Linked DNA regions of Homo sapiens: region 2 is linked to region 1. The links come from fine-mapping of genetic effects on gene expression. Tissue or cell type: whole blood. Region 1 holds a variant in brackets; the other region holds the start of a gene. All regions are shown on one strand. Distances are between the middles of the regions.

Evidence for each region. PIP is the estimated chance that this variant, and not a neighbour inherited with it, causes the effect.
Region 2: TMED8 starts here. The variant in region 1 is fine-mapped to the expression of TMED8 in whole blood (INTERVAL, PIP above 0.99).

The regions. Positions count from the first base shown.
Region 1 is chr14:77,485,666-77,488,422 of GRCh38, forward strand. All of the region lies in intron 1 of ISM2 (isthmin 2), which reads right to left. Among named protein-coding and RNA genes, the nearest start is that of ISM2, 12 kb to the right of the region's middle. The variant C/G (reference allele first, on the strand shown) is at 1,182.
Region 2 is chr14:77,375,537-77,378,293 of GRCh38, forward strand. TMED8 (transmembrane p24 trafficking protein family member 8) reads right to left here and starts at 1,558. Exons shown (of 6, transcript NM_213601.3): 1 at 1,400-1,558. The coding sequence starts at 1,517. It overlaps SAMD15 (sterile alpha motif domain containing 15), which reads left to right and starts at 1,843. Exons shown (of 3, transcript NM_001010860.4): 1 at 1,843-2,757. The coding sequence starts at 1,883. RefSeq lists a silencer at 1,136-1,565 and an enhancer at 1,616-1,825.

The sequences.
Region 1 (2,757 bases):
GCCTCCAGGCTATAGCCACTGCCCAGGTCTCTATGCCAGGGCAAAAGGAGCACCTCCCAGAGCTGCCTTATGAGTCTCCGGGACCTGCCACCTGTGGACCCTGCTTCACTCAGGCCACACCCTTGCCACCCCTCCCGTCTCATACCTGGGCAGTATGGTATGGCTGACAAACACTGGTTGTGAGAGTCAGATAAGCTTGGGTTCAAATCCCATCTCTGCCTCTTACTAACTTCTTCAACTTGACAATATCCTCGTCTGCAGAATGAAGATAATCATTCTTCCCTGCAAGGACTGTGAGAATTTTATTTATCAAACATTTCCACAGCATTTACTGCACACCAGGCACTATTCTAAACACTTCATCACTCATTTCATCCTCCCTGTCTTACATCCTCATTGTCATGCCTGTCTTACAGTGGAAACTAAGGCACAGAGAGGGCAAGTAACCTGCCTGAGGTTGCACAGACATTTAGCGATAAAGCCAGGATTTAAACCAGGCAGTCTGGGCCTAGAGCCCATTCTCTTAACCTGCAAGCTATAAAGTGATAGTATTGTATCCCCTTCAAAAATCAGGGGCTTAATCAGCCTAGTTTCTCACTCTTACTTTTTTTTCTTGAAAGTTTGGAAACAGATTCAGAATCTTCTGTCTCTCCCTCTTTGACCTCCCCTTCTGCGGTGTCCAAACACCTGGCTCCAGGGCTCCTGCACTAAACGCCTGGTCCCAGGGCAGCCGTGGGCCCATCTCGGCCCCAGCCTGGAGTCTCTTGCTGAGTCAAAGCCCTCTAGTCTAGACAGCAGGGTGGATGAGTGGAAGGTGGAAGGGTGAGTAATGGAACAACTCAGCCCCTTCACTGACCAATGAGGGAGGCCTGGAGCATCCCTAAGTGCTGGCTTCCTAGCAGCTCCCACCCACAATTCCACCAAAGCCCTAACTGTGCCTGTGACTTTGCTCAGCATCTCCACTGTCTGCAGTCTCTGGGGCATAGAGACAGGCAGTCTCGGAGCAGCAGGTGTTCAGGGCTGTGCAGCCTTTTGGCTGATTGGGATACCCTAGCCTGGTGGTGGCTGGGCCTGCCTGGGCAGGTGGTACAGTGGTTATGCAGTGGTTCTCATCTGGGGACATGTGGCACTGCCTGGAGAAATTTGTGATTGTCACAGCTAGAGGAGGTTTCTACTAGTAT[C/G]TAGTAGGCACAGGCCAGGAATGCTGCCACATAGCCTGCAGTGCACAAGGCCATCCCACAAGAATCATCCAACCCACATGTGAATAGTGCTGTAGTTAAGAAAGCATGCTCTAGGCCAGGCACGGTGGCTCACGCCTGTAATCCTAGCACTTTGGGAGGCTGAGGCGGGTGGATCACTTGAGGTCGGGAGTTTGAGACCAGCCTGGCCAACATGGTGAAATCCTGTCCCTACTAAAAATACAAAAAAAATTAGCTGGGCATGGTGGCAGGTGCCTGTAGTCCCAGCTACTCGGGAGGCTGAGGCAGGAGAATCGCTTGAACTGAGGCAGCAGAAGTTGCAGTGAGCCAAGATCGCATCATTGCACTCCAGCCTGGGCAACAGAGTGAGAATCCATCTTAAATAAATAAATAAATAAATAAATAAATAAATAAATAATAAAAAGAAAAGAAAAGCAAGCATGCTGTAGATTGGGCTGCCTGGTCTGAGTTCTGCTGGCAGCCTGGCTTCTAACCTGTGGGGCCCTAGCAGGAGAGAAGCCTCTGTGAGCTTCTTCATCTGCAAAATGGGAATGACAACAGGACTAAGCCTAGCCCAGGCCCTGCTACCCAGTAGGTGCTCAAAATGTTCCTTTCCAGACCTCTCTACCCACTCCTCTCCCTGGTGCCCAGTCAGACCATAGGGTGGGCAAAGGCCAGAGAGGTTCTGGCCAAGTGTCACAGCCACACGTGCCGCCTTTCCTCTCTGGAGCTGCTCTTGGGAGTCTCCCTCTCTGTACGTCAGCCCTTGCGGAACTCCTGGGAGTGGAAAGAGATGTGGGGAACGTCTCATCTTAGTTTGGGTTCTCTTGAAGCCTACCCCAAGACAAGGGTTCCAGTGTAGGTGGTTCCACTGGGAGGTGGCCCCAGGAGATGCCAGAAGAGGGTAGGGGAGCGAGACAGGGAAGGGGAGGCGGCAGTCAAGGATGCAGTCAAGCAGCAACCATGATGGGCACCTGCAGCCAATCCCCCTGGGCTCCTCCGATACCCCTCGAGCAGGGACAGAGCTGGGGATTTATCTGCCAACTCCACCAGTCCTGGTTAAAGGCTCTGGGGCTAGAAGGGAGGATTTGCTCTCCAGGCACTTCAAGTGAGCCACGTACATCTCCCAGAAGGGCTGAGGGGATCAGGGCCGGGCACCCAGAGGCCCAGCCCATAGCCAACCTCTGGACACATCTTACACACCAGGCCTTCCTAGGCAATTTCCATGCCATCTGTCACTTTTTCCAACTCAAAGGTAAGTTCTGTGCAGACAGGAATTGTGTCTGCTTTGTTCACTGTGGGATACTGTGCTGAGCACAGTGCCTGATACATTATAGGAGCCCGATAAATCACTGCCACGTAAACAAATGAACACCAGCAACCCTGAGGGGCGAGCGTGATCACCTTTATGTTAAAGATGAGGCTATGGAGGCTCAGGGAGGGTAGGGACTTATGTAAGGTCTTAAAGGTTACAATAAGAGAACTGGGATTCAGCTCAGCCCAGCCTGATCTCAACACCTGCGCACTGGTGCACACTATGCACGTGTGGACAGACACT
Region 2 (2,757 bases), 110 kb before region 1:
TATATGCCAACGATTTTTAATTTAATACAAAGCAGAGTTCGTAAGAAAAAAAGGCAAAATTTGTCAGGTGTTTTAAAGTAAAAGAATATAAAATCATGGGAAAGAGCTGGGTGAGTTGTGTGTGTGTTTGAATAAGGCAGCATTATGAGAGGGAAGATACTTGGGATCAGAGTAGAAGACAGAAAAAGGCACCATGTTGGAAGCCATACATCCAAGAACACCTCTGGCGGCACAGGAAGTTCAACTGAACAAAAAGAGACCTTACTGTCACAATGGTTGAGACGAGTATAGTGTGTACCATGGACTATACCCCAAATGCCTTAGACAAAGCAGCTCAAGTAATCCTCACAATAATCCTATGAGGCAGATATTTTTAGTAATCACATTTTACAGATGAGGAAACTGACGTTTCAGACTCCAATCCAGGCACCCTGGCTCCACAGTAGTGCCTCAACCATTATACTTTATGGTGTCTATTTTAATTTCAGACCTAGAAAATTAATTTATATTTGCTACTTAAATAAGACAAGTTCTCTCCCCTCTACCCTTTCGTATTTCAAAAGAGCATCCTTTCAGTTGCATCGTGTGTGGTGTTCAGGAGGCTGAAAGAAGAAAGTGTGATGGATGGACTCTTTTGTCTTTGGACACTGAAATAATACACACGGAGGAACTCGCGTTAGTAGAAATGGAGACGTCGTCCTGGACAAGAAGAGGATGAGGGTCTTGAGAATGAGGGAGGTAGGCCAAATTTTTAATTCCTGCTCTTGCTTTGGCTACTGTGTTCAAGCAAAAGACCCCAGACACTACCTATTTCAACTCTGCTTTTCATTTTTCCCACTCTAAGCGATGGAGAGGATGGCAGCAAGGCCAGGGGGCCTATGTGCAGGAAGGCTAGGGCGCAGTGGGCTTCTGGCAGAGGAAGGCAAGGCTGCCAACCCGGGTGGGGGCCGAGAGGCGCGTGGTAAGGCTGGGGCAGGGGACTGAGATGGGGATAGGGTGGGGAGCCAGAAGCAGGGGGCGGCGAGGCCAGTAGGGTTCGGGTCGGCAGTCTAGATGTGATTAGCAGACGGAGGTGGGACCCGAACCCCGGCTGAAGCTGAAACTGAAGCTGAAGAGGCGCCAGGGGCAGAGCCACCCTGTCACTACCATTTGGGCAGATCTCAGAAAGGAAGCGGGGCAGGAATCAAGGCATTTCGAAACAGGAGTGAGTAGAAAATAACCTCGAGCCCAGGGCCCGGGTGGTGGCAGCGGCGGGGAAGGGGCCCCGCGCGCGAAGGGGCTGCCGAGGTGGGTCCGCTCCGCGGGGAAGCCCAGGACAGAGCGCGGCGGAGGCTCGCGCCGTGGTGCGGGGCCCTGAGGCCGGGCGGCACCCACCCGCCAGCGCCCCGGCCTTGCGTACCTGAGGCGGCCGCCTGGCTCCCCTCCACTCCCTGGCAGTCCCCGACGCCGCCAGCCGACCCTGGGCGGGCTGTGGGGCTCCAGGAGCCCGGCCCCTCAGCCGCCTGCAGGTCAGACATCTGCAGCCCGCGCACGGAGCTCTCCGCTGCCAGCCGCGAGTGGCTCCGGAAACAGCCGAAGGCCGAGCGAGCGCCGAGCACAGCCGAGCGCAGCCTGCAGGCCGGAAGAAGCGGCGCGGCGGCCGCTTGAAAAGCTAGCTGACCCAGGGGCGGCCACAGGAGCTCTGGCCCGCTGAGGCTGGCGATGAGGCCGCAGGGAGGGTTACTGCGTGCTTGTGACAGACGATTTTTAAAGTCAGGGCTTGAAAGAACAAACAAAACCTGGGGAAGAGTCAGGAAGACACTGCCGGAAATCGTGGTATCCATAGAGACGCTATCGGAAGTTGGGGTTGCTAGGAAGCCGCGGCGCGTCTGCTAAGCTGCAAATGGCTGAAGTCCCGGAGGATTATGATTCCGGCCCAGATGAAGATGGAGAGCTGGAGCCTGAGAGGCCTGAACTGCCTGGACTTCATAAATTGTATGAAAATGCCGAACCAGACACCATGGCAAAGGCAGACTCGAAGCTACCAGCAGAGATTTACCAAGAGCCACAGCCAGAGACCGAGGAAGAGGACTTCAAAGAGGGGGAGCCAGACAGTGCTAAGAACGTGCAGCTGAAACCTGGCGGGACGTCCCAGGAAGGAATTGCCAAGGAGTCCAAGAGAGACGTACCAAGCGAAACTGAACCAGGGATACACCAAGAGGTAAAGTCGGAAACATCCAGAGAGATGGGAGAGTTTTTCAAAGATTTGGAGGCCCCTATGGATGAAACGCATAAAGAGTCAGACCTAGAGCCACCAGAGGAGGCTAAACCAAATGTTACAGAGGATGTGTTCCTAGAGTCAGCTATGGAAACAGATCCAGATCCAGTGCCACCAACGGAAACCATGTCTGAGGTTTCGGGGGCCACAGTCAGAGAGAGAAATTTAGAATTACTAGAGGAGGAGACTGAACCGGGGGTTCCAGAGGAATCACTTAGAGTGCAACATGAAGAGACAGGTCTAGAGCCTCCAGAGCAGACCAAACAAGATTTTCCAAGTGAGAAACTAGGAGAATCACTTGAAGAGACAGATCTTCAGCCACCAAAGATGACCAAACCAGAGACTCCAGAGGAGACACAAAGAGAGTCAACTGAGAAGAAAAGGACAGAGCCACCCGAGCAGGCTAGACTGGAATTTCTGGAGAAGGAACCAAGAAAGTCTAGTGAGGAGGCAGGTCTAGAGCCTCCAGAAGAGACTCAACCAGAGGTTCCAGAGGAGAT